7 separate regions of the Homo sapiens genome follow, and all the other regions are linked to region 3. The links come from fine-mapping of genetic effects on gene expression. A gene starts in region 3. Each other region holds a variant in brackets. All regions are shown on one strand. Distances are from middle to middle. Region 1 overlaps RNF144A (ring finger protein 144A). Region 2 overlaps RNF144A (ring finger protein 144A). Region 3 holds the start of RNF144A (ring finger protein 144A). Region 4 overlaps RNF144A (ring finger protein 144A). Region 5 overlaps RNF144A (ring finger protein 144A). Region 6 overlaps RNF144A (ring finger protein 144A). Region 7 overlaps LOC101929452 (a long non-coding RNA gene).

What was found. PIP is the estimated chance that this variant, and not a neighbour inherited with it, causes the effect. A credible set is the group of variants that fine-mapping cannot tell apart.
Region 1: its variant is the best candidate, but not a certain one, in a credible set for the expression of RNF144A in liver (GTEx, PIP 0.56).
Region 2: its variant is the best candidate, but not a certain one, in a credible set for the expression of RNF144A in fibroblasts (GTEx, PIP 0.83).
Region 4: its variant is the best candidate, but not a certain one, in a credible set for the expression of RNF144A in sigmoid colon (GTEx, PIP 0.74).
Region 5: its variant is the best candidate, but not a certain one, in a credible set for the expression of RNF144A in subcutaneous fat (GTEx, PIP 0.84).
Region 6: its variant is the best candidate, but not a certain one, in a credible set for the expression of RNF144A in cerebellum (GTEx, PIP 0.57).
Region 7: its variant is the best candidate, but not a certain one, in a credible set for the expression of RNF144A in blood mononuclear cells (TOPMed, PIP 0.88).

What each region holds. Positions count from the first base shown.
Region 1 is chr2:6,949,841-6,953,907 of GRCh38, reverse strand. The region is part of intron 2 of RNF144A (ring finger protein 144A); the gene reads right to left. Among named protein-coding and RNA genes, the nearest start is that of GRASLND, 33 kb to the right of the region's middle. The variant T/C (reference allele first, on the strand shown) is at 2,316.
Region 2 is chr2:6,991,827-6,995,893 of GRCh38, reverse strand. All of the region lies in intron 2 of RNF144A (ring finger protein 144A), which reads right to left. Among named protein-coding and RNA genes, the nearest start is that of GRASLND, 75 kb to the right of the region's middle. The variant C/T (reference allele first, on the strand shown) is at 2,321.
Region 3 is chr2:6,915,774-6,919,840 of GRCh38, reverse strand. It overlaps RNF144A (ring finger protein 144A), which reads right to left and starts at 2,429. Exons shown (of 9, transcript NM_014746.6): 1 at 2,219-2,429. It overlaps GRASLND (glycosaminoglycan regulatory associated long non-coding RNA), which reads left to right and starts at 1,159. Exons shown (of 5, transcript NR_033997.1): 1 at 1,159-1,439; 2 at 2,617-2,991; 3 at 3,874-4,018. RefSeq lists a silencer at 2,100-2,589.
Region 4 is chr2:7,013,907-7,017,973 of GRCh38, reverse strand. RNF144A (ring finger protein 144A) reads right to left here. Exons shown (of 9, transcript NM_014746.6): 4 at 3,416-3,520; 5 at 3,202-3,262. Among named protein-coding and RNA genes, the nearest start is that of GRASLND, 97 kb to the right of the region's middle. RefSeq lists an enhancer at 307-806. The variant C/T (reference allele first, on the strand shown) is at 2,241.
Region 5 is chr2:7,021,170-7,025,236 of GRCh38, reverse strand. RNF144A (ring finger protein 144A) reads right to left here. Exons shown (of 9, transcript NM_014746.6): 7 at 721-868. Among named protein-coding and RNA genes, the nearest start is that of GRASLND, 100 kb to the right of the region's middle. The variant T/C (reference allele first, on the strand shown) is at 2,489.
Region 6 is chr2:6,975,604-6,979,670 of GRCh38, reverse strand. All of the region lies in intron 2 of RNF144A (ring finger protein 144A), which reads right to left. Among named protein-coding and RNA genes, the nearest start is that of GRASLND, 59 kb to the right of the region's middle. The variant A/G (reference allele first, on the strand shown) is at 2,339.
Region 7 is chr2:7,058,747-7,062,813 of GRCh38, reverse strand. It overlaps LOC101929452 (a long non-coding RNA gene), which reads left to right. Exons shown (of 3, transcript NR_110252.1): 3 at 1-87. It also overlaps a transcript of RNF144A not described here. Among named protein-coding and RNA genes, the nearest start is that of GRASLND, 140 kb to the right of the region's middle. The variant C/T (reference allele first, on the strand shown) is at 2,495.

The DNA.
Region 1 (4,067 bases), 34 kb before region 3:
AAAATATATAAAGCAAAAATGATACTTACTGAGAAAAATGCCAAGTACACCAACGCACTGAGAAAACTCATTATATATGACTTTAAAATGGCAAACATGCAAAACTAGTGAAAATGTAGAAAATATGAAAGGTACTGCAAACAATCTTGATGTAATAGATTGTAAAAACCCAGAACCAATAAACTGGGAATTCACAGTTTTCTCAAAAAGACACAGAACATTCACAAAAGCTGACATTATACTGGGACATAAAGAACAACTCAGCAGACCATGTGTTCTGACCTCAATGCAATTAAGATAGATATTGATAATAAAAAGATCCCACACGTTGGAAAATTTTGAAAGACTTATCAGTAACTCATGGGTTATAGAAAAATATGTAATTTTAAAAATATGTAGAACTAAACATTAATGAGAATATTATTTAAGAAAACTTATGAGATGCCATTAAAGCAGTACTGAGAAGAAAATTTTTTTTGAGACGCAGTTTTGCTCTTGTTTCCCAGACTGCAATGCAGTGGCACGATCTTGGCTCACTGCAACCTCCACCTCCTGGGTTCAAGCAATTCTCCTGCCTCAGCCTCCCGAGTAGCTGGGATTACAGGCGCCCGCCACCATGCCGCTCTAATTTTTGTATTTTTTTAGAAGACACGGAGTTTCACCATGTTGGCCAGGCTGGTCTCAAGCTCCTGACCTCAGGTGATCCACCGGCTTCAGCCTCCCAAAGTGCTGGGATTACCGGTGTGAGCCACTGCGTCCAGCCCTGAAAAGAAAATTCATAATCTTAAATGCTTATATTTTAAAAAGAGGGCTAAAAATTATTGAGCTGTTTTTAGCTGAAAAAGTAAGAAAAGCAACTATAGCCCAAAATCAAAGAGAGCAAAAGAAGACCTGTAACAAACAAAAACAAAAATAAATAAAACACAAAGTAAAGTTACAATACAGAGGGTCAACAAAGTCAAGAGTGTTTTTCTTTGAAAATCATAATAAATGCACAATCTGGCAGGTTGGTTGAGGAAGAAAAAAGAACAATTGTATTGTAATAAATAATAGAAGAGATTTAAAAATCTGTGAATAATTTTATGCGAATTAAATTGAAAAGCAGGGAATTATGAACACATGCCTAAAAGAATACAACTTAACCTGCATACCATAGTAAGACTCCAGCTCTAAAACATATATATGTGTGTGTATATGTATATATAAAATAGAAATACACATCTGGATTCTATTTGCTCATTTTTAAATTTTTTCTTAAGTTATATATATAAATATATGTTAACATACTTTTTTATATATAACATATATATATACATAAAGCTTAACAAAACTGACTCAAGAAGAAATGAGTGCAAATAATTTTACAAACTTTGAAAAAAATTGATTAGAAATCTTCCTACAATGAAATCACTAGGTCTCGTTTTCAGTTGAGTACTACCAAAATTTCAAGAGCAGATAATATAAATCGTACACAAAATCTTCTGGTAAATTGGGAAAAACAGGAAAAAAAAAAAACCCTCCCTCTTCAATCAGACAAAAGCAGTTAAGGAAAGAAAAAATATAGGCCAAACTCTCTCATGAGTAAAGAAGCAAAAATTTAAAACAAAATATGGGCAAATAGAATCCAGCTGTGTGTCAGATGTGTATTTAAACAAGCTAGATTTCTCTTAGAAGTATAAGAGAATTTAACATTGGAATATATTGTAAGCGTAACAGAACATAAAAAAACAGTGAGAACCATATGGTCCTCTTAATAGATGCAGAACAGGCCTTTGATAAAATTCAACATGTATTTATGATTAAAAACATAAAATAAAAGTCGACAAATCAGAAACACAAGGTAATTTCCTTAACCTAATGACATTTAGAAAAATATGGCGGCAAACGTATTTTTAATTAAATTAGAACATTCCCTATAAAACTCAGGCTGGAGGAAAGGATGTCTGCTATTACTTCAATTCAATATTGTACCTTGGGCTCTAATGCAAAAAAGAAAGCAATCACAAGAAAGAGAAACTATAAGAATTGAAAATGAATAAACAGTAATTTCATTATTTAAAAATACAGTATATGTACAAGAATCTATAGACAAAATATTAAGAATACCAAAGGTTTGGTAAAGTGACTAGATGCAAGATCAATATTAAAAAGGTAATTACATTTATACATTCCAGCAAAGATTCCATTTCCAAGGGTATAAAAGAAACTAAGGTACTAGGAGCACATTCAACAAAAGATAAGTAAGGTGTATCTAGAGAAAAGTAGAAAACATAGAAATTTCAGACATAAATACATGGATAGTGATACGATGTTCA[T/C]GGATGAGAAAGTCAATATCCCAGAATATGCCAATTCTTTCTAAATTGACCTACAGAGTTAATGCAATCCAAGCAACTTCCCAACAAGGGTTTGCTGCTGTTGTTAATGGTGCTATTAGTTCATAAACTAACTCTAAAATCTCTATAGAGGGCAGAGGACCAGGTATAGCCAAACACCACCAAATAAGAGGGAAAAGGTTGGAAGCCAAGTGCCAAAACTTACTAGAGAGCTGGAGTCATTAAGAGCAGGCTGCATTGACACAGAGGTGGGCAACCTAACCAAGTTAATAAAGGAGACAGAGAAAAAAAAAAAAACATGAATACATGGAAACATGACACATAACAGAGTGTGCATTTCAGATAAATAGAGACAAAGGGCCATTCAATAAATGTTACTACGTATTATTTTTCCTTATGAATAAAAACCACATTGGATTCCTCCATCACACACAAAAGTTAATTCTAAATACTTTTAAAACTATTAAATATAAGAGAGTGACTTATGACCTCAGAATACAGAAGAATATATTAAATATAAGGCCCTAATTATAAATGGGCAAGGCTGATATAGTCAGCATGTTAAAATCAAGAACTTCTAGTCATTAAAAAGATAACTTACAGAAAGTGAAAATGGATGACACAAACTGGGAGGTAATATTTTTAACACTTGAAACAAACAACAGTCTTCAGAATACAGGAAAATGAGTTCAAATCAATAAGAAAAATACAATCCAATAAAAAAACTAGACCAAAAATACGAGCAGTCATTTTACAGTGGACAAAACAGATGGTGATTAAACATGGGGAAAGTAGCTCAATATTACTGGTAGCTTAAATTCATCTTACCATTAATTTGGCAAAAATTAAGACACCTAATGCCAAGTGTTAGGATAAGAAAGGCATAAATTTTAAAGGAAACTCTTATTCACTGCTGATGGCAATGTGAATTAGTATGATCACACTTCAGAAATCATTACAACATTTTCTTGCAAACTTAATCATTAATTAGCTTTTATTTTTCAGGCCCAGCTGTGCTCTTCCTTGGTATATAATCAAGAAAAAAATTGCACTTATGGACCAGGTATTTAGGAACCAAGAATACTAACAGCAGACTGTTTTGTGACAGTAAAGATTGAAAATAACCCAAACATCCAATGGCAGGAGAATGCATGAAGAAATCGACGCCAACATTATCAAATATTACACAACATGAAATGAATAAATGCAGTTACACAAAACAACGCGGTTAAATCTTAGAGAACACTGAGTGAGCAAGTCTACCTATAACACAATATCATTGTTAATGAGTAAAAGGATATAAGGTTTAGCAATAAAGAACGCTTAAAATAGCAAGGAAAGATTAGTAGGTAGCTCAGGGGAAAGGTGGGATGCCAGGGCAGCAATATATGGGAGCACCATTCACATCAACGATGCTCTCGTTTGAAAGGCAGGTTCAGGATATTTGCTAATTATGCTTCAAAACTGACATAATGAAGTTTTTCATGTGTCAAATTCTACTGAATACAGCTCTTTAAACGCACTGCTTAAAACAGTAATATGGCAGAATCCTGTTCTGACTAAAAAGCGGGTATCTTTTTATGCCTCCTAAATTTTCTAGAGGGGTAAATAAAAAAATAATAATAATAATAATGGTGATGATGATAGTGGTTTTCTCTGGGAAAGAAGGTACAGAATTTAAATTTTTACTTAATACACTCTCTGTAGTTTAATAATTTTACTGTGTATGTATAT
Region 2 (4,067 bases), 76 kb before region 3:
AAATCCCTTCCTCCCTGTGGTGGTTAACACTGAGTGCCAACTTGATTGGATTGAAGGATGCAAAGTATTGTTCCTGGTGTGACTGTGAGGGTACTGCCAAAGGAGATTACCATTTGAGTCAGTGGACTGGGAGAGGCCGACCCACCCTCAGCCAGGGTAGGCGCCATCTAATCAGCTGCCAGCAAAGCCAGAATAAAAAGCAGGCAGAAAAACATGGAAAGACTGGACTGGCTGAATCTTCTGGCCTCTGTCGTTCTCCTGTGCTGGGCTTTCTGCCCTCGAACATCGGACTCCAAGTTCTTCAGCTTTGGGACTCCTGGCCCTTCGACCACAGACTGAGGGCTGTACTGTCAGTTCCCTACCTCTGAGATTTTGGGACTTGGACTGGCTTCCTTGCTCCTCAGCTTGCAGATGGCCTACTGTGGGACCTCACGTCGTGATCGTGTGAGTCAATACTACCTAACAAACTCCCCTTTATATAAACATCTATCTTATTAGTTCTGTCCCTCTAGAGGACCCTAACAAATACACTCCCCTTCCCCTGTGATGTCTCCTTCAGCCACAGCTTAGCAGACAGGGAATCTGACGATGCCGCTGTGTGCCACAGGTAGGTTTGGGACTTACTGTCATTTGAGTAGCTTATTCCCAGGGTCAAGGAGCTGTCCTAACTTAAAAAAAAAAAAAATTACATCATCCCTTTCTCAAGTTTTACGACTGACACCTCACTGGGTGTCACTGCGCTAATATTTAGTTAGGAAAACCCACCTGGTGAATTCCACATGGAAGGAGAAGGGAGAATTCACCCACCTGGTGAATTCCACATGGAGGGAGAATTCTACCAGGAGGGAGAAGACACGTCTGGCCCAGAAGGAAGCACCTGCAGGATCCTGAAAGCTCACCCAGCAGATGGGGCCCAGTGACACATGACGAAGGACATGAGAGGCAGAAATGAGCCAGATTCGAGGAGGAGACCCTGACTACCAGAGCTCAAGCAACTGAGGGGGTGACTGAAGACCGCCCGGGATCTGCACTGGGAATCTGCGCAGGCCTTCAGCGTCTGGGGCGGGAGTGGGCCGCAGCTGGAGGGGCCTCTTCCAAGGGCAGCTGGTGCCTGCAAGTCACTCAGTCTAAAATACATGTGTCTTCCCTGTTACAAAAGGACTCTTTGACACAAATTCCTCTGGACTGGCTAGCACTTTCAAGATAGTTTAAACAAGCATCATGATTTGACCTCAAGCTGGTGGGTCCTGAGGAGTGAGATAATTGGAGGCGTCACACGGCTCTCTGGGGCTGCAGGGGGTACAGACATCAAGGCGTCCTCCCCAGGGTCATATTCATTTGGATCATTTCTCTACACCTTGAATTTTATGCTTATGCTTATGACTGTCATCATTTTCAATCTCTACATGGGGTTTTCTGGGTCCTAGGCTGACAGGCTGTGACTTTTTTCTTTTGATTTCTCTGTATCTTTTTTCTGCTTTAATACTTAATAATTTTTTTAAGTAGCATCTCTTAAAGTTCACTGGACAACATGATAATTATATTTTAAAATGTTAGCTGGCCCTAAATTGGATCACAAACCTTCACCCCAGGCACTGAGGCTTGGGGCAGGCTGCAGAAATCAGTCAGGGCTGGAAAAGTTTCAAGGGGGCAGTAGCTGGCAATTGGCTGCTCTGGCCTGGAGATCTGGGGAGAGCTTGTTTTTTGACAATGTTGAAAAAGCACTGGGTACAAGTTCTGTCGGGCTGTTGGGGAAGTTGCAGGGTAAAGAGTTCACGCTTTGCAGTCAAGCAGACCTGGCTTCAAATTCCTTTTTTTTGGCCACTTGGTTATGCTGATGTTGAAGATATCACATAACTTAAATTTAACTTCTGTGAACTCAATTTTTGTTTTTGTTGTTTTGTTTTTTCCCTCTGTAAAGCCTGTATCACCATCACCACTCATGTAGACTTGGGAAGAGTGAGTGAGAAGTAAGAAGCAATATATTAGAATAATATATCTAATATATAGATACTAGGAGCTTGGTAAGTAGAAGTCATTATGATATGTCAGGTTAACAAGCTTAGACTTTTACCTACATAGACAAAATGGATAAAACAAGCTGTTGGGAAGAGATATCATATGGTGAAATTAGTCATTTCGGAAGTTCAATCCAATGGAGAAAATTTTTAGAAGAATCAAACATCAAAACCTCCTAAAGCCTCCTCCCTTATCGACAGCCATGCACTATGCTCCCAGCCTGGACATCACCCGAGAACGCATTACCCAGAGGCAGAGCTTAACCGCTCCACAGAGGGCCCTGGAATCCCCACCTCCACCC[C/T]GCGTGAACAGTTCCCTGCCCCACAAGCCAGTTATAGCCTCTGTGCTGGACCTCTGCCCTGCCCCATCGTGCTTGTTCCCAAGACAATTCTCTCTCCTTCCAGCTTCAGATCTGGGCTCCTTTTCCTGTTTACTGCCTCTCTGTTGTGACCTCCTGGCACAGCGTACAGGGTTCCATCTGTCTGACTTCCTTTCTGCCTGGACCATGATTTCTATCTGGCCCCCAGTGGCTTCCCCTGCCCTGGGCACAGGTCAGCCCATGGCCCTCACCTCCCACTTCCCCCGCCAGCCCCATGAGCTGGATTTGAAGCAGGTCACAGCACCATTTCCAGGAATCACATCACTATTCTTTCCCCAACAGAATACACAGTCTCTGAGTTGTGCTCAAAATCGTGATTCAAATGGTGACAACAGGATATATTTTACAGAAAAAAAAGGGGTCTATATTGTCTAAACCCATCATGGACCTTCCCTACACACAGGATGGCCTTAATATGATTTTGCAAACAGCGAACAGCTGCGAACTTGCAATCAGATTATGCTAAGAGAATCACAATGCACAATAAAAGAAAGCACAGTCTTTGTTTTCCTAATGTGAATGTCAAGTCATATGAAATGGCAAACTGTTTTAGGAACATCTGGTCAATTATAAGTATTATTCAATTTAAGCAATTCAAAATGTGCATAAGGCAATTTACTTATTAAGCATGACTGAGACCGTGCAAAGGATTGTGCCTTGTGATGAAAGAGGTGTGGACACAAGGATAAGAGAGAGCTGGAAGAGAAAATAGTCCACTGTAGAGAGATTCAGCAGATTCCTGCAAGGTCCAAGGTGGTTATTTGACCAAAACTATCCCATCTCTGAGCCCCAGGGCTACGGACCTCTGTAGGCCCCTATTCTTCCCACCTTTACTCCTTCAAAGCAAACCTTGGAAAGGTAGGCAGCTGCCAGCCAGTCATCATCCACCTCTTACTTTCATGCCTTCCTCCAGCAAGTCCCTGCTCTCCTCCAGTTGCCTGGGACACTCTCATGTTTCCTCTGCAGCCTAACTCCCTTTTCCTTCCTTACCCGTTCTCCACACCCTACAAACCCTTCACACCCAGCATCAGTCCTGGTGCTGTGTGATGTCTCCTCTGATTTCTCACGTCTCCCCGCTGTCTCCCGTCTCTGGGTCTCTGCTGTGTGTGGTCCACCAGGCTTCGCAAGCAGCGCTCTCTAAACACCAGCATCAGCATCACCTGAGAACTTGCTGGAATGTAACTGGTTGGGCTCCAACCCCGACTCATTAAAACAGAAACTCTGGGGAGGTGGGTGGGGCGGCACAGTGATCTGTTTCCGTGAGCCTGGCAGGGACTGTGATGCACAATGAAGCCCAAGAACCACTGGTCAGTATCATTCCACTCAACAGCATTTCCAACCAAGTCTATCTCACTCAAGGCTGTGTGGGTCGAAGCCCACCAAGTGCACCGTTCTTCAACAATACCAAAACTCAGCTGTCCTGTCTACAAGGCCCTGGCCTACACTCTCATAGTAACTCCCATTTCTTCTGGGTAAGTGTGGCTTTGGAGGTCTACCATGTCACCAGTCTTTCTGGGTAAGTGTGACCCTCAAAGTCTGACATATGTGTGAATTTACCTCCCCAACTTGACGATACATTATTCAAGGGTAGGAACTATGTTCTAGCCTTCTGGACAGTGGTCACAGCAGCTATTCCATAATTATAACAACAATTATATATACATATATA
Region 3 (4,067 bases):
TTCATTAGTTCCTCTTCCAGAGTTGCTGACATTAGAATCGGGAGCTCTTTAAAAACACAAACTGCAAAAATCAAATTGCACTGGGTCTGGAAAATTTCCATCCCATTAAAATTGGGTTATTTGCACCCATTTTCTCATGAGGTCCTCAATCCATCCACAGCCTTTGATGCCTGATGCAGGTGGAAGCCCACAGCCAGTGGGGGTCTGACTCGGAAGCCACAGTAAGGCACACCACACCATGCCTTCCCTTCCACGCAACACCGCGGAAATCACTCTAAAGCAGGGCTCAGATCACCCTCCTCCTCCAAAACCATCAATGGCTCCCACTGACACAGAGTCAAACCCAAAGTCTTGGCCTAGAATTCAAAGATTTCATGATTTATCCTCTTCTGACCCCTCTAGTCACATTTCCTTTGCACGCTTTAAAAATAAAAACAAAAATGTAAAAGGCATTAGAAAAGTGCAAAAAACAAGGTTCCCTAATCTCAGTACCGGAGAAGAGAATACAATAAAAAAGGCTGTTGTCTCCTTTGGAGCCACTGGGTGAATCCCCTGGGAAAGTTCACGGTGTCACACACCTTGTCCCTCCCCCTTCCTGCGCTGGAGCAGCTCTCTCTGGACAGAGGCCCTTCCTGCCACCTCTGACCTGCCCCACCTGCAAGCTTTGACTCAGACACCCCCTCCCTTGCAAAGGGGACTCCCTTTGCAGGGACACCCTGACTCCCTCCCTTCCCTCCTGGGGGCTCCCACAGCTCCACAGGCGTCTACACCAACTTACTTTCTACCTGGCATTTCATTTACAAATCCATCTTATCTGCCAGGCTCAACTCTCAACCCCAGCCCCATTCACTGGGGCATGTCCTCCTTCCATCTCCCAGGCCCCATTACGGGAAGTGTTTTCTTCCCAGGCTCTTAGTGCAGGAGCTAGACCCCCTCTCACCGCAGGGCAGCAGGGATCCACTGGGGATAGTTCCCTGGGGCCTTACCTCACTCCTCTGTTACCCCAGCCTTGATCCTGCAGGAGGCAGCGCAGGATGTTTGTTCAATGGATTTTTTTTTTTTTTTTTTTTTTTTTTTGAGACGGAGTCTCGTTCTGTCGCCCAGGCGGGAGTGCTGTGGCGCGATCTCCGCTCACTGCAAGCTCCGCCTTCCGGGTTCACGCCATTCTCCTGCCTCAGCCTCCCGAGTAGCTGGGACTACAGGCGCCCGCCACTGCGCCCGGCTAATTTTTTGTATTTTTAGTAGAGAGGGGGTTTCACCGTGGTCTCGATCTCCTGACCTCGTGATCCGCCCGCCTCAGCCTCCCAAAGTGCTGGGATTACAGGCGTGAGCCACCGCGCCCGGCCAGTTCAATGGATTTTAAAAATTATTATTCTCTAGAAAAAAGACCACGAACTTTGGAGTGGACATCCTGAGACCTGCCTACGAAGACCATTAGGGTAAAGAAGTCACCCCTTCACCCCAGGACCAGGAAGCCTCCAGGATGGCATAAGCGACCAAACAGCTGGGAGCCAAGCACAGTGCAGGGGGCTTGGGGTCGGCGGCCGGAGGCTGGGGTGGGTAAGACCCGCAGGGAACTCCGGGGCTCGGGCGGCGGCTCATTCCCCGGGAAAGGGCTCGCGGTGGGGACCAGGGGCAGTAGCAGCCGCGGACCCCGCGCGCAGGGGATGTGCGGGGCATCCTCTTGGCCAGTTCCGACCTTCCCCGCCGGTGGCGATGCCCCGGACGCGTCGTCCTTTCCCAGACCTCCTCTTGGGGCCGAGGCTCCAGCCCCAGGGTCTGCGGGCGGGGCCGCGAACCTTGAAAGCCCCCGCCGCCAGCTCGCCCGCGGGACCCTGGCCCGGGGCGCCCTGTCCCGCGCCGCAGCGCAGACCCGCGACCGCGCAGGGCAGGCAGGGGGACGCCAGGTCCCTAAGCGCCCACTGCCCTGGGGCGCGGGCGCCGCCTGCGAGAGGCAGGGCAGGGCAGGAGCAGAGCAGGGACGAGGTCAGGGACACGGGCAGGGCAGGGCGGGCGTCCTCTGAACGGAGCCCGCGAGTCCCCGCCCGGGACGCTGCCCCCCGCCCGCTGCCACCGGGCGCCGGGGCAGGACCCAGCGGGGCAGGCGCGGCCGCAAGCCCCGAGCCCCAAGGCCGGCCGCGCAGCGCCGCGTCCCGCCCTCCCCGCTCCGCGGCCGGCCCGGGCGATGCGGACACAAAGGGGACGCGCGTCACTCTACCTGGGCCTGCTCGTCCGCGGTGCGCGGCTCTGACGCCTCCGCCCGGTACTGGCTGCGGGGTGCCGGGTGCCCGCAGTTTGCCGCCCGCGCCTCCCCGCGCCCGCGCAGCCCGCACGGCCCGCACTGCAATGCCAGCCCTGCCGCCTCCCGCCTGCCGAGAGCCCGCGCGGGGAGAAGCGGCTGCGCGGGCGGGGCGCGAGCGCGCACAGAGGCCGGGCACGCGGGAGGCTCGGCCCCGGCCCCGCCCCCGCGCCGAGCCGCACAGCGCCCCCTGCCGCCCGCCTGCGCCGGCCCGAGGCCCGGAGCCGCCCCGCAGGCCCCAGGACAGGCTCCGGCACGAGGAGGGGCTGCGGAGACCGCCCGTGCACGCTAACATGAAAATGCTATTCCTGCTTTAGTGGCCTCCAGAAGACACTCCCCTGATTCCTACACCGAGGGAACACACAGCAGCAAGCTAGGAAAGAAGGGGTGACCCAGCCCAACGCTGTAAACCAGGGCGCGAACCGGCGTTGAGCTGTGCAGCTGCGCCCTGGGCTCCAGTCCTGCTCTGCCGCAGACCCCACCGGAGCCAGCACCTGCCTCCCCGACCCTCGCTGGGGCGGCTGTGAGATGAGCCCAGAGCCTTCCTGAGCCAACCCTCGCAAGGAAAGTCTGTCTGTTCACCCCACTATCCTTGTCTTGAAGGATGAAGAAAAGAGGGCCCCCCGGGAGGTCCCAAAAGGTGGAATGGACATCTGGGATCCAAGCACAGCAATTTCTTTATTTTTCTTAAGGTATCCAGCTTGTTGGAATCTAAGATCTGCGAAGGTATTAATAGAATTCCTGCATCTTCTGCCACTCCCCATAGAAGCTTGAAGTTACACAAATGTTAAATTATACGTCAGATGTGCATATATGAACAAAACCTACGAGTGTGCATGAAATAACACCTTCTTAAATATATAGATTCTTTTTTCTGCAATATTAAATGGAAACCCCACTAGAACATCGTTTTTCCTTAATAGCATACCCTCCACACTGTGTGGTCTAAATTCAAGCTCTACCACCTACTAGCCATTAAGCAAGTTATTAAGGTCTTCGTGCTTCCATTTTCTTACGTGGAAAATGAGGTGGCAATAGTATGTATGAGTTCTTCGGAGGGATTAAACAAGTCAAATAGGCCAAGTGCCATGGCTTACACCTGTAAGCCCAGCACTTTGGGAGGCCAAGGCAGGAGGACTGCTTGAGCCCAGGAGGTCAAGGCTGAAGTGAGCTGTGTTTGCATCACTGCACTCCAGCCTGGGCAGCAGAGTGAGACTTTGTCTCTCAATAAATAAAGAAATAGTCAAATTAAATATAACTGGCAAACTAAAACAACTCCATAGTCCTTAGCTACAATTTGTCTCATTTCTCCAAAGAATTAAATCAGATGATTCTTAACTAACTCAAAGCTCTGCATAATTTGTCTTCTGCTACACATACATCTTTATAGTAAAATAAAATAAAGCTGTCCCCTCTGTATTGAGAAGTTATTCTGGTAAATATTTGACCTCTTCAAATATATGAACGAGCACTTGCCTTCTAATGCCTCAGTTTCAGATTCTTTTTAGAAATGTCATTATTCAAGAAAAATGCACAATGGGAAGAATCTTAACAACAGCACTTTGTTACTTCAGCCTCTCACTAGAGGATGAAAATCGTTCTGCATAAAGGCCTGGGCTTTATGAAAAATATATTCACACCTCCCGTGTCCGAGCTGGGATACCAAAGAAGTTCCTGGTTGAGTACTACTTATGAATGAAGGATTCAGGGGATGCACAGGTGGGTGACTGCAAATGCACAGACGTTGTGCTGTGTTCCCCACAATAAA
Region 4 (4,067 bases), 98 kb before region 3:
ATGGGAACGATTTAAATCTTATTAGTTTTGTCCTCATATAGCTGTGACACGGCACTGCCTGTCCTCACATGGAGAGATTCCCTATCGAAAAGGTCAGGGACAAACGGCCGCTCTGACTGCAGACTGCAAATGTCCTTCCTGTGCTGCCGGGGCATGTCACACCCTGTGAACATGGCCCCAGGCTGAGGCGTAGATGTCTATTAACATTCTGCATTATCCTCCCCAATCTACACACGTGTGTGTATGAGACATATTTTCAAACAAAGCAAATGATATGCTTTTTGGCACACTAGAGGAAACTAATGTTAACTCTTCTCTCCCAGAGGCGTATTCATGGCAGATTAATGAAGCAGGTCTCTTAAGAACTCCCTGCTTAAAAATGCATAAAACTTTTTAAAAAGGTGGCTTTCCTTTTAAAACAGTTTCCTTTCAGAAGTACATGACAGAGAACGATGCACCCAGCATCCCCTCTCATCCCTGCACTTACTACCCTGCCCGGCGGGCTGGTGCCTGGTGCAGGGCTGGGATGGTGGGTTTGATCCTGCTGTGAGATGGCAACATTTTCAGGAGTCGGCTCTAGTCAGGCCTGATTACAGGTGGATAACCCATCGTATTATTTAATCTCTCTGAGCTTTACTTTAAAAAAAAAAAACAAAGAACAAAAAAAAAAACAATACACGGTTGACATCTGACATCAGCATTCACTTGGCCAGGCACTGGGCTGGCATGGGACGAAGGCATGAGGACCCACAGTCCTGTCTCTGGGAGGGCTGAGCCTCCAGATAGAGGCAGGTGCACAGCAACGCCCTTAGCACAGCACCGCTGGGTCTCAGAGGGCCACGGGCGTCGAGTGTAGCATGAGAGAGGGGTCCACGCAGCAAGAGGCATCCACACCCCCTCGCTCAAGAATCTGTCCCTACCCAGACTCTGGAGTGAGCCAGTTGTGAGGAGGTGTTCAGAATGAAAACTCAGCTTCCTGGCCCCCTTCCCTGGCTTCCTGCTTGCCCCAGAGCTCCAGAAGGGGAAGACATTGACGCTAAAACCAAGGCTGTTATATCAGAGGAGACATTCTAAGACTAAGTGCAGACAGTGTGCGCAACATGACCTAACCATAGAACTTTCTGGTAACTCAATGTTTTCAGAAAATCATTGAACTGTCTCAGTTTTCTTCCAGGGCGTCCTCTACTTGACTAGATTTTAGAGCCATAGAGACAGTCAAAATTTGCTTTCTGATCTTGTCTCCAAACTCTTTCAAGGTGCTGGCTATAATCCATAACTATATTTTAGCTCTGACATTCTAACGTTTTATCTAGACAGGTCTTTTATAGTATGAAGTCTGAATACTTAAAAAAAAAAAAACTTTGAACATAATGTTAGTAAAATGCTTTAAAGGGAGAGGCTTGAGAGATTTTTTTTTTTTAACAGAAGCCAAGTTGGCTTCATGTTTATGCAAAAGGAAAAAAGATTTTCTGACTAAGCCAAAGTACTAAAGAAATAACAGTTAAAATTATTAGGTTGAAAAATGTACCCAGCTGCATTTTTAAATTAAATTCAATGTCATAGAAAGTTCATATTCTTGTAACGCAAACAACAGCCAGTTTCTGTCAAGATTCTCTCTGGAAAATATTCTCAGAAGAGCCTGAAAGTCTCAGAAGTCTAAATTAATCAATTTTATTGCCCTACGTACTGACTTTTGTACCAAATGGCATTATATTAAAGCTATAAACTGCCCCAAAGCAAATGATATACGACACTTTAATAAACACACTCTTGAAAACAAATGTCAATGCCATGAAAAATGCTGTTTGAGTTTTTTTTTAAGTGGGCTACATATTTTTTTCTTTTTCTTTCTTTTTTTTTTTTTTTTTTAGAGACGGGGTCTCAATATGTTGCCCAGGCTGGACTTGAACTCCTGAGTAGTTGAGACTATAGGTACATGCCACTGGGCCCAGCTATCTCTAGCATTTCTTTTAGAAAGCAAAAATATACAAACAACAGGTCTCTGCATGCAGCTAAACTGGGAGTCTCTGGATATTGTCCTCTGGTCTCCTCTGCCGTCCACTCCCCATCCGGCCATGTTTTCATGTAAGCCCACCCTCCAGGGCTGTGTCTCAGTGGTGAGACCCTGCTCAGGTCAAGAACCCGAGAATCAGTGCAGGGAGAGGGAGAGCAGATGCCAGCAATCCAAACTCAGAATCCGCCTGCAAGGTCCACACAATGATGTTCTGCATATGGAGTGT[C/T]GCCTGCACACATCTGTCACTCTGCTCTTTACCAGACAAGCCTGGGGCCCAGAATAGATATGAAAACAAAGCCAAAGAGAGTCCACAGACTCTTTACAGTTTCATTGTATGACCCCGGAGTATTTCAGAGAGCAGAGCTAAAGACCTCTCCTGGACATTCCACATGGCTTAATGCTTTGCAATATTATCCTGAGAATCATGTTCTGCTCTGTGTGCACCTGCCACACTGCTCTCCCAGAGGACCCCTGGGTCTGCATCAGGCCTGCTCCAGCCAGAAGGACTATTCAGGGCCCAGTGGAGGGCTCACGATGAAGGGTCATGGGATGTGGTCCCAAAGCACCCACTATATTTAGAAATCAGGGCAAGTCAGTTAGCCTCTCTGGGGATCCGTTTATTAGATAATGACAAATTAGCTTTGCAGAGTTGTTGTGACACTTACTGGGATAAGGGACTTGATTATTCATTCACCACCTACTATCTAGGTCTGTGTCCAGTGGTGAGTAAGCGCAGACAGGACACCTACCATCGGACTGTTGTTAGGACGGGGGTTACTGTAATTTCTGCTATGCCTACCCTCACGACTTCCCTCCATGACTCTGCATCTTTTAACTTCTGGGCCAGTCCAAGAGTTTAGCCCTCAAACTCAGCCTTAAGCTGGCTGAAATATAATACCTCAAGAGAGCCATCAACTTTAAGCCTCCCCCAGGAGCCTCAATCCTTATAAACAAATTGTGTTCCATAAATTCTTCCTGCTACCAAATAGATCACTAGACAAGGTCTTCAAACTGTGAGCTGTTCAGAGAATCCAGAATGTCAGTTTAATTTCAGAAGTTTATTTTACATCAACTTTTTAACTCCTATCAAATGCTGTATAACCATATCTACCAAAAGAACTCCCCACAAAATTATCCACATTCACACATTACAGGAATCATAACCGGCAGATATACCAGGCACCTACCTCTTTCAAATTGTAGCTTTTTATATCTTTGCATAATTTCAGCTGCAACCATGCACTCAATCTAAGGGAAAAAAAAATGCAAACAGGAATGATAACAAGCTGAGGGCTAGAATATAATGCAACGCACACCCAAACAAAACCCACGTTATTCTGACAAGTTCAGCAGTGCACGCCTGTGCACATCAAACAGCCCAGTCTGTTCAATTGCACATGCCTCGTTCTCCTGTAGGTGGCCCTGTTTAGGGCAGGCAGCATCTGGGCAGCTAATTGCGGTTTCTAATCCTTCTTTGATCAAGAGCTCAACATACTGTTTCAGGCACTGAAAGAAAAACAGAGAAGTGTCTATAAACATCTTTACCTCCTTAATGCTGAAGAAACCATGATGCATTAAAAAAAGGACCAGGCACATCATTCCATTACAGTTTAATATTTTCACTGTGTAGTCCACAGCAACCAACACATTTGAGGTTTTGAGGTTTTATTCATTCAACAACTATTTATGGGGTACCCATTCTGTGCCAGGGACTGTATGCTCAATCACAAAGCTAAGGCTATGGGTTAGATCCCGGCACAAAACCTCAGCAAACACAAGAGCCAAGAATTCTAAAAGCAAGATGAAAGGCAGCAAGGGAGGCTGGGAGGTAATATTTCTCAAATGCCTATAAGATGCAGGCACTGCATTAAATATTTTATCTCTCAGTCTTTCACTGAAGCCTTAGAGCATTTTTACAAGAAAGGTATGACTGTTCCATTTTTCATATGTGAAAACTGAGTCAGCAAAGGAGGAAGTTGCCAACTTACACAAATAGTACCCAGAGCCTCGATGTGAACCCAAGCTTGCTCAGACAAAATGCCCATGATCTCCC
Region 5 (4,067 bases), 110 kb before region 3:
CAGAGACGTGTGGGCCTGGGAGATTGTGCCCTCCCGTCAGGGACATGGCTCTTGCAGGCACACACGGTAGGGTGTGTTTGAGAAACACTGAAGCAGAGCATACTTAGGAGAAGGCTGCCGTATGAGACCAGAACTTCCATTCTGCCAGAGAGCAAAGGGCTTGCACGTTTTCCCGCCCTGTAGATGATGTGAGTGTCAATGAAGTCTTAAGACTGGCCCCAAGCCCAACAGCCCCCCAGCCCCCACTTCTGTCTGTCCTCACTATCCTGAACACCAGGAAGGAGTCCTGATCAGGAACCCCGGAGCCAAATCTGGTGTACCCTGATTTTGGATTTCCAGCCCCCAGAACCATGAGGAATAAATGTCTGTCATTTAACCTGCCTCATCTATGATATTATGTCACAGCAGCCCAAACTGACAATGACAGTCCCCGCTTAGACAAAACCTAAGATGCTAAAACCCCTTTAAATCCCAGGCTGGATCCTGAACCTGCATGAAGTGTTTAGACCCCAGGACTATACGAGTCACAAAGGCTTCTGTCCCCATGGCGCTCATGAGTTAATGTTTTCACAAACCCAGGAGAAACACCAAACGGTGTTGCTTCACTGTTACACAGGAGTAGGCACCAAGCTCTTTAGGAAACAGCTGGTCTATTTTTCTCATTCCAAATCTAAACCTCAAAGCTAAATGCCGCAAGGTGAAGCTGAAGGCCGTACTCACGTCCAGAGACTCCAGGCAGTACCAGCAGAAGGCGTGCTTGCAGTTCTTGCACATCATCTGCGCGCAGCCTTCGTCTCGCTCGATGTAGACTTTGCACTTGGGGCAGCGCTTGATGGGCGCGTCATCTTCTTCCATTTTGAAAGCAGCACTGTGGGAGAAACGCCGTGAGGACTCTGCACAAACGGATCCCACGGGAGACCCAGGAGCACTGGCTATGCTGGAAGCATCGGCTCCACTTCACAGACTGAGTTTTCTTGGTATTAAATGAAAAAACAAAACAAAAACCAAAAAACAAAGAAACAGAAACTCCAGAAAAAAAAAATTAACCAGAACACTGTGAATCAGCCACTTTGAGTTAGGAAAAATTTTTAAAAAATTACAGCAACATCAACACATATCTAAATTTAGAGATATATGTATACAAACAAAAGAAAATACAGCGAAAGGCTTATTATAACGGAGGTATCTGAATCATAGTGTTAAGGTCAAATATTGTATCCTTATTCACAGAGCTGTCTACTTTCCAAAGGGTTGATATAAATTTTATGTACTTTGCTGTTATAAGAAAAATAAATAAATGTTGCAAATACACACACACAAACACACACTGTTTACTTGAGATAGATCCACCTGGCTCTTCTTACAGAATTGTTTTCCTCAGAAGTTGGCTAGGTCTGCAGGGTTAGCAAGAAGGGCTTTAAGCTGAGGTCAGAGCTGGGTCTGCTACAAACCAGCTGTGGAGCAACCCTCCAAGCCCTAGTTTTCTCATCAGTGTGACCATGAGAAAAGATTCCGTGTGCCAAGAGCACAGCGCAGGGTGCAGCTTTTATGAAGTGCTTGATAAAGGGTAGCAGTAGTTCAATGTTGCTAAAGAAAGATAACACAGACATTAGGTATGACTCACCCCATGCTGTTAATTTTTAAAAGATGGGTAAGAATATTCAGAAAAGCATCTGAAGGAATAAATGATAAACTGTTAAGAGGAGTTATCACTGATTATGGGGGTCCATTTGCTATATTGTTGGAACTCACTATATCAAACAAACATCAGCAGGAGAAAATGCATCCCTCCTTCTCGGGGCAGCTTTTTCAGAATTTAACACATGTATGGGTATATATTCACGGCAGTTGAGCAAATTCTGGCTTTTTGAGTGCATTCTGGCTGAAGGATCTCTCACAAGCTTCCAGTCAATATGAGCATTAAATGTAGTTTCACTTTAGTAGGAGCTGTCTGATGATTGGCAGTGAACAATCCTCCACTTGGGGTGCACATTCCAACTGAACGTGACTGTTTGGTCCATTAGTAGAAGGCAACAGAGTAAGAAATAATGAGAGAAGCAGTATGTCCTCCTAATTAGGAGCACAGAGTCTTGAGACAGACAGATCCTAGCTGTGCGATTTATGTGTTACGTGTCTCATCTGCAAACCAGATGAATAAGGCTAATAGCATCGATCTCTACAGACGGTTGTGAGGATTACAGAGGTTGCACATGTTAACATGTTAAGCACAAAATCCAGCACATAAGTACCAGGCACTCAATAAACAGTAGTTATTATTAACAACTGTTACTGAAAGATAACACAACTGTCACTAGCTCAAATGCTTCCAATTTAAAAGCAAACTGCAGACCAACCTGGTCATGCAGAATGTGATAAAGAATGAACTAAGGTTGTTGCAAGGAGCAAACGAGATAGCATATGTGCAAATGTCTCCAGAGGGATCCAGCACAGAGCCAGCTCCGAGTAAACCTTAGGCCTGGCCTCCTTC[T/C]GAGAATGACTTTGATTTTGCAAAAAGCTGGAAGTCATGAGACACCGGATCTGGTGATCAAGGTTGGGTTTTAGGTTAGATAACATTGTTTTGGTTTGAAAGCCAGGTGTGACCTTAAAGCTAAGAAACCAATTTTCTCATGTGACTCACAAGCTGATTTTGGAAGAAACGGCAGGAACAGCGTGTACAGTGTCTCCTGGGGAGACATTTCAAAATGAAAACCGTTAAAATATGAAAGTTCTGGTGTACTGTGCTATGCATAAAATTTTGCATGGAATAGACAATGGTTTTCAAATATTTCTTAGTATCTGAATTGGATTTAAAATTATTACTAACAACATTTACTGTAAACTCAAATTATAAAAGCAGAGAGGAGTTTGGACAGTTTAATCACAATCTACACGTGGCCCAGCAGCTTGAAGAGGTGCGCAGGTGATGCTAATGAGTGAAGTGGTCAGGGGCTGGATAAAAACATGGTTGAGGAGAAGATTTAACCAAAAACAACAACAACAACAAACCCTCCAATACAAAAAATAGCTTAGTGTCTTCTCAGTTATAAATGGCAGCTGACAGGCAGCCTCAGTTCCAGGGGACAAGGAGTAGTGAGGACTGTGGGGCTTTGGCCCAGGAGGCGCCTCCAGCAAGAGCTGGGGCTCTGCTACGCTGGCTGCCAGCATGGGGAGGCAGCCTCGGAGAGGCTTAGGATTCGGATTTCCCAGAGAAGCCAGAAATTCCAGTTTTTATGTGACATCTTCTGATTTAAAAATTTCCACAAAATGAGATTTCTGAATTTTGATTTAGATCATCTTTGGACAATAATTTAAATGAGACTAGAATGTCACAGATAAAGAAAACTAAGTCATCAGGCTCCAAACACTCACCAGCCTCCATCTAAAGTTTTGAAGCCCCTAAGATGCCAAGTACACGTGAAGTATAAGTACAAGTGGTTCGTGCTTGCAGCTGCCTGCCTGATGCAGGCTGCTCAGAAAGGCCCAGGCCCTGTGTGTCAGGAGCTCATCCTGATGGCAGAATCGGCCTTGTCAACGCAAGAACTCAAATCCAATATGTCCAGGGTTGTAATCAATGCAGAGAATCTCAGGGGGAACACAGAGGGTGGAGGCCCCAACCCTGTCCTCGGAACCATGAAGCTTGACAAAGGGATGTGATCCCCACCTGAAGTGTGGCAGGAGCCCCCAGGGAAAGGAGGAGGGCAGAGCAGGGCACTCCAGACACGGGAAGAGAGGTTCGCCCGGAAGGAGACCAGGGGTGTGTGGCAGGGACCCTGAGAGGGTCGGGGGCTAGAACAGGGCACAGGGGTCACACGGAAAGGAACAGGAGCTGGGGACGGTGGAATGGGAAAAGGGGCGCACAGGGAGCAGCTGGTGAGCACACCCTGGGGAGGGTGGTGGGTAGAGTGGCAGCTCCTCTATGAGGATCCTGGACTCAACAGGAGCAGGGGCAAGTGTCCAGCAGAACCACGTGACCTTGTAGATTTTGTAGGAGAAAAAGACCTGGATATGATGAATTTCCTATGCATCAACCTACGAAATGTCAAAGTACAGAGCGTGGTGCGGCAGCA
Region 6 (4,067 bases), 60 kb before region 3:
CCTGGAGGCTTCTGTGGAGCCTGGAAGGCTCATTCATAAACAATAACTTCTGGTCCCCCACCAAAGATGTAATTGCTAATCTGATTGTTTCACCTTTCGAAATACTAAAGAGGCCACCCTCAGGAAAAAAAAAAAAGCTAATGATTTCTTTTAACTTTTCACACCTGAGAAGAATGTCTGTTTCATCACAGAGTCTTCTAGGTATTAAACAGGTCTTTGGTTTAACAATGGCAATGACAGACCATTTAGTTGGCTAGGATGCAGAGATAAATCCAGTGCTCAACTTCCCCAATCATAATCACACAGAAGGCACCTCTGCCTCCCTCACAGCCAGTGCTGGAGACTGCCTGTCCTAATAACCAGGAAAAAAAATATCTCATCTCATCTGCATCTCCCACCCTCCCTGTGAGGAAGTCCACGTGATCCCTACAGCCTTGGCCAAGACTGAAGACCACAGGCTCAGGGTCAACCCACAGCAGCGCCTCCCACTCATTCAGAAGAGACATCTCTGTCCAACATCCCTCAGATCCACAAGGCTGAGCCCCTATCCCAGCCCCTCGCCCACTATTCTAGAACTTAGACTCCAATAGGCACTCAGGAAACACACAAGGCTGCTCCTGTCTCTCTACTTTCTGACCCTGGCTGCAGAGACCACCAAGTGCAGATGAGCTCATGAGACAGAGAGGCAGCCCAGAAGTTGGGCAGAGATACGTGGACCCTTCATGCCACCCTTTCTTCTGGATGCCAATCCTCACCCATCCAGTGCTCCATCCCTTTGCTGGACAACAATGGGAAACTCTGTTAGCTATAAAAACAAACCACAGAACTTACTCAGTTCTGACATGGTGGTGATGATCCCCACAGGTGCAGAAAGAGAGCTCTCTTCTAAAGAGAATATTCACAAAGAGAGAAGGAAAGCCTCCAAACAGACAGGGTCCAGGCTCAGACTGCAGAACCAGCCTACTTGTTTCCTGAGCATTCAGCTTGGTTCTGAGTCCAACCTCGAGGGACTTGAACATGATCACATAAACTGATGCAACCTTTCCTGGAAGGAAACAGAGATGTCAACTTCAAATTATTCCCAAGAAAACCCCGGCAACCTGGGAAGAGTCTTCAAGGCGGGGAACGTTCCTGCTGGGAATACCCACAATAACACAAGTCTGTGTGGAGTAATTATTCCCAGCCCCACGTTCGAACTTGGGTTTTTACCCCTGGAACCTTTATAAGGTGTCCCTGAGCTTGGAGGCACCAGTCACAAAGAAAAGACATGGGCTGTCTAGAAGTCTGTTCCCAGGAAGGATCTTGTTGAAATGATAATGGGCCTAATGGGACTATGTGCTGTTAAGAGAGTACAAGTCCTTGGTCACTTGAGCATCATTAATATAGAATTACAGCACCAAAAACAATAGAACCCACCATATCCAACCATGTTTTCCACATTCACAGGCCATCATAGGCCTCTGACACATAAAGTCCTGTTAGGAGCTTCCTGTCATTCCAGAAAGAAGTCCACGTCCTCCAGAGCTATGCAGGACCACAGACACCTTTACCTCACGAGGGTGCCCACACCTCCTCTCCTCTCCTGGTCTACTAGCCCCTGTTGAGGATGAGGAGTGAGGCTGTGATGCAGTTCTATGGGTTCCCCAAGCTGACCACATACCCACCAAGGACACTATTTCACAAGACGTCTCCCAGATGGAAACTTCCAGTGACTCCAGGGTGATGTATCTTAAAGGCAAACTCCCCAACAGCTCCCCCCGACACTCACTACCATCTATGCTTTCATTTTCTCCTTAAAACAATAGGCTTAATACTGTCTACTGTGTAACTTATTTCTCTCCTTTATGTTCTTTTTGTCTCTCCAGAATAGACACCCCAATGAGGGCAGTAGTTTTTATTTGCTGGGTTCACTATTCTATCCCAAGAATTTATAACAGTGCAAGCATAGAGGAAGTGCTCCATAAAAAATTGGTCAGTAAAGTTTAATGGACACTCTAAAGCTCGCTGCCTGGGAGAAAGCTCCTGTAACAGCAATAAAAGGTTTACCGCTTCTCCTGCACCAGAAGTTTCCCAGTAACAGAGATCATTTTATGCCCATATAATATCAACTATTTGGTATAATGTACTACACGTAGAAAGTAAATATTTACTGAGTAGTGACTCAATAACCGCTAGTAATGAGGTGCGATCCTCTCTGCAGTGAAATTAAAATGTGCATTAAACACTGAATACTGATGCTCAGTGTTGATTTGATCCCAATGAATTGATGTTACGATGTTCAAAAGAACCATGTCCAGTTGTCTGTGCTTTCGTGTCATTAACTCAAAAGGCATACGCA[A/G]CTTTCCCTTCCTGGGAACAAGGAGGCCTGGCTTCCAGCCCTGGGCCTGCCTCCTGCCAGCCCTGGGATCTTGGCACATCTCCTAAGCTCTCTGCATCCTGCTTTACTCATGTGGAGAACGACAGGGCTTATTTTCCACCTATAAAATCAACTGAACATTTAAAAAATTGTAATAACTTGGTTATAGTCTTAGAGAAAGCAATAAACATGGCTAATGGTAACATACAATGAACTAACACTTTTGAGAGGCAATGCGTAATATTTATCAAGGAACTTAAATTTTTTTAATCCTTTGATCAAGAAGCCCAATTTCTGGGAATTTCATCCATTGAACAAATAATTGCAGGCATGAAAATGTGGATTACAGCATTGTCTGTAATATTAAAAAGCTGCAAGTGCATGAATATAATATTTTCAAAGGCGTATCAGACCAGTTTTTTTAAAAAAAGAAGAATATGTATTATAGAATGACATTTTGCAGGATTAACCAATAGCCTTTTGGTATAATTTTGGTAGGTGAAAAGTAAGCATAAACCCCATCTGTTCATTATGATGGTACAACAGACAAAGGAAAGGGTAGTACATACTCACACAAAATCATTTCTTATGAGAGTGAGGAGTAACTGTTTTTCTTTGTGCAATATTCATATTATATATAAAGTTTATATATGAAATGTATATATAATAAATTTATATATATGAAATGTATATATGACATATATCATTATATATGAAATTTATATAGTTTTATATATATGAAATTCATATATATATAAATTTCAAAACCTTCTGCAAACCAAAGAAAGTTACAATAAATAACAAAACGAAAAACATTGCAAAATGTATCCCAAAGAGTTATTCTCCTTAATACATACATAACTTTATAAATTGAGAAGTAAAAGAGCAACAATTGAATAAAAAACGATCAAGGAACGAGATAAAATTCACAGGAAAAGAAAAACGGCCCTCAAACAAACACAATTATAAGAAGAGAAATTCACTCTTACTATATCAAGATGCCATTCCCCAACTATCAAGTTGGCAAAAATTCAAATATTTCGCAAACCCTGTGGGGGAGGCTGTAGGTCAACCATTACTCACACACCTTACTGGCTGGAGTTCAAAATGATATAACACATGAAATGGGGAAAATGTCAATATATCTACCAAAGATTTACTACATGTACCCACTGACCTAGTAATCCCACTTCCAGTCATGTGCCCAGTGGAGGAAGTTAGTCACTGGGGTCTTGTTTGTAATACCAGAAGACTGGGAATAACTCAAGTAGCAGGCTGTGGACTAAACCATGGAAGGTCTGCACAATGGAATACTGTGCCGCTGAAGAAAGGATGAAAAAGCCTTCTATCCATTCAAATGGAAAGATCTGCAAAATGTGTTAAGTGAAAACAGCAAAGCATAGAACAGCATATATCCTACGATAAACTTTGTGTACTTATTTGTATTCACATAAACACTGCATGGATATCCAAGATTCTTTCATTTTTTGAGACAGGGTCTCGCTCTGTCACCCAGGCTAGAGTGCTGTGGTGCAATCTTGGCTCACTGCAGCACTGTCCTCCTGGGCTCAGGTGATCCTCCCACCTCAGCCTCCCAAGTAGCTGGGACCACAGGCCTGTGCCACAACCACACCTGACTAATTTTTGCATTTTTTGCAGAGATGGGCTTTCAACTTGTTGCCCAGGCTGGTCTTAAACTCCTGATCTCAAG
Region 7 (4,067 bases), 140 kb before region 3:
CCAGAAGTTCAATATTTGAGCTGATTAAGGATCAATCAGCCAGTTCCCTGGGCAGGGGAGAGACTCTGCTTCCACATTATCAGGGACTCAGAGAAGCTGGATAAACGTCTCTGCTTTCTTTCCTCTGGTCCATCCTGCTCCAGTATCAGTGGTGAGCAAACTTTATCTGGCTCTCTTCCTTCACTGTCTATTATCAATTTATTTTACCTTGGGGCTGTAATGTCCCTGCTACTATAATGCAATGTCTTTTGTGACCTTTCTCTATTGATATTGAAGGCCCTCTTTCTATTTCTTTCTTTTTTTTTTTTTTTTTTTTAGCACCCAGCACTATTTCTCAAAACACATCTGTACTTGATTACATGACCTCCGTTATTCATAACCTTTGCAATGGGTCTTTGCAGGAACTCCCAGCTAGAGGAAGAATGTACTTCATTTTTAACTCTGTACCAGTCTTGAGATTTCCTTTGGCAAAAAGCAAAAACAAAAACACGACCACCACCAACACAAAACTCAGCAGAATTAAGATGTAAGTTTCAAGCCCAGACCTCAAGAGACCATGCATTTTTCTGCTCTTTCTCGTACCTCTGCTCAGGCTGCACTGAAGACAATTCCTGCCAAACCTAATTAGAAACTGCATGAAACAGAGCCAAATTAGTCCAATTGTTCCAGCCAAAGCTCAAGACACAGTGAGCGCCCAGCCTCAATCAGCAGAACCAGGTTCCCAGCCCACCCCGAGCTGGTCACAGGTGGCTGAGTTATCTCTGCTGAGATTAGAACTGCCCAGGTCACCACTCAACTCAGGGACAATAACAAATGCTCAGTGTTTTAAGCAACTGGATTTTGGAATGATGAGTTACTTATCAATAACAAACTCACACATCATCTCTTACCTCTTTTCTGTGTATCAGAGTAAAATGGGAAAAATGCTCTCATATATTATTTACAATACATACAATATATTATAGGTAATGTCTATCATATAATATATCTAAAGAACATAATAAGCACTCAACAAAGTATTCATCCCTCCTTATATTATCCTCTAAAAACTATTTCTCATTCTTGTGTTGAGTAATTTAAAAAGCAATGCCATCGTTACCAAAGTAAATGTAAGATGTAGTTCTAGGCCTCAGCATTCAGCCTAAATCATAGGCCCTAAAGAGTGGTGTGCAATTCTGACAGCAGAAGACTTGCCTAAGCCCTATTTTTAAGCTGGCTGCTTGTGATGGAAACATGGCCCGTAGAAATGTGTGCAGATAGACACGGGAAATAAGCAAATCTTTGAGAAAGCCTTAGCTGAGATTATTTTGCTCATCTTGGAATTAAAAAAAACATCATCACCCTTGCCATGTGACTTGGCTCCTCCATTTTCCCTCAGAATATGATTAATTGCTCTCTAAATAATAAAAGTCTTCCAGGAACAATAGAAAATATCTACTATGGAACATTCATAAATATTCAGCTGAAGCCTGGTGGGAATGCTAGGCTCCCATGAGAGCTCTGTGCTGACATTGGAAGTCAGAAACCAACTCGGAGACATAAAACTGTGCAGTAAAAATATTTACACAAATGAGTTTGGGGTGAGTTGTCAGAGTGCCATGTTCCTCTTTTGCCTGGACGTCGGGAATTAATTTGGACCTGATGGTGAAGCTCAGGTCTGAAATCATAGCAGCTTTTTTATATCCATGGACAGCTCACATAAATGTCAGGGGTGAGCAGAGTAGAAACACTTGGGCCACTACCATAGTAGAGCCCAGGGCATCAAAATGTTGCTTTATTTCCCTTTGATTCCATAGGTTCCATCCAGCCTTCTAGAAATCATTTGGTGCCACCTACTAGAAACTAGGAAAAACAAACTATTAGACTCAGGTCCCATCTCCTCTCAAGGAAACTACATGCCAAAAAGGAATACATAGGTATTTGCAATTCAACACAAGTGCCGGCATGCTGATCTGACCACATGCTACTAGAGCATAAGAAAAACAAAAGACTGCAGGGGTTGCAGGGGCGATGGGGTCAGGTGGATGACTGCACAGGAAAGGCTCTATGTAAGATGGGGCATCTGAGTGGGTCTCAGAAGAGGTTATAAATTCTTGCAGGTGAGAAGAGAGTAAGGGAATGCTACGCATCTCTGGTGTGGTCTGGGAAACCAAGGGTGACAACGATGTGGTTAGGGACAACGAGCTGGGAACATCAGCCCTAAATCTGGAATGGAAATTTGGGGATCCAGAAAGATGCAGTGATCTTTCTCTCCATTTCATTTTTGGTTTATTCTGGCTGAAGTTTTGCCAGGGGGAAAGGTTATAAAGGGCATTGGAATGTTAGTCTGTCTGAATCCTTCAGGATTTGAAGGTAACAAAAGCAAGAACCAGCCCTGCAGGTCATCGTGTGCCTGAAGAAAATGACAGATGGCCACACAGAGGCAACAGACAGCTTGGAACAGCACATGTGCTCTCTTTCCTGCCCCTCTCAGCTCTGGAAATATTTCTGGGAA[C/T]GCAGAATGCCAGCCTAATCCATCTGGAAACCTTAGATTAGGAAGAAAAAAAAAAACAAAACAGGATCATGTCTTATTTCAACTTTCAAATGTTTTGAGGAAAGTGCCAAGAGAAGGGGCAGAAAGAAGAGAAACAAAGAAGAGAAGTGAGAGGAGGAGATGAAGAAGAAAGAGGAGACACAATTAGTTGAACTATGTTTAGCAGTAGATTCACTCTAGAAGATTCATTCTGATGGCTGAAACTTCCAGAACATGGATAACGTTTCAAGACACTGACATGATGGGGAATATTAATTTGAATGTGCTATTTTCCTATGATAGCATTTTAAGACTGTAAGTATAAACAGCTACACAAACAAGCCCTTATGTGGGTTCAGATGTCCACAACAACATAACTTTATTTTTCTACCTGCAGCGCCACTTTTACTCAAGAGAAGAAAATTAAATTTTAAGTAATTCATATTAAGCAAGCAAATCAAGGATTTTCAGCTGGTTTAGTGATTCTCTCTCACCCTTTCTCCTCTGAGTTGGTGTAAGTTCTCCAGCACCAAAGCACTGAGAAGGAAAGTGCTGGGTTCTCAGTGCTCAGCATCTGTCATCATTAGAGTTTATTGAGATTTCTCCTTAACTGCTGGACTCTGGTTGCTGGCACCTGGACCTTCTGGTGTGGCTTGAGCTATCTGCCTCCAGCTGGTCCCCAAGGTTCTCTCTATACTGGTCACTCTGCATCTTCATCAAAAGTCTCTTCTAAAACATGAAAGCTGACACTTGACTCTTTTGTTTCTCTCTGTATGTTTGATGTAATAACCCTACCAGACAACATGAGCATAGATGCCCTTGCTGCCTGACTCAGGAAGTGGGTGGGAGGGGAACACGGGGCATGGCACAGAACAGGACGTACTGAAAGCTGAAGCCTTTGGTTAATCCTTTACAGTATTATTCTGATACATCCAAAGTAGCATTTATTTTTTTTTGAGGCGGAGTCTCGCTCTGTCACCCAGGCTGGAGTGCAGTGGCATGATCTCAGCTCACTGAAGCTCCACCTCCCAGGTTCATGCCATACTCCTGCCTCAGCCTCCCAAGTAGCTGGGACTACAGGCACCCGCCACCATGCCTGGCTAATTTTTTGTATTTTTAGTAGAGATGGGGTTACACTGTGTTAGCCAGGATGGTCTCGATCTCTTGACCTCATGATCTGCCCGCCTCAGCCTCCCAAAGTGCTGGGATTACAGGTGTGAGCCACGGTGCCCAGCCCATCCACAGTATTTTTTTAAACAGGTTTTTCACCTCACCCTCTCTCAATCCATGTCAAAAAGCTCCCACTCCAAGTTCTTTAAATGCCCCTCTAGATAGACCCGCTATACATACATCCAGGTAACTACCATGACCTGCATACATACAGGTGATGCAGGAGAAGGGGAGCATATCACAGCATACAGGTATACGGTCGGCAAAATGCAAAATGTGGGGTGCTCTGTAGAAAAAAAAACTGTTTAACAAAAACATTGCAAGGACAAAAATAGGAGAAGAAACCTATAGAGTCAAAGAGATTTATATATGTCTACCAACTGCA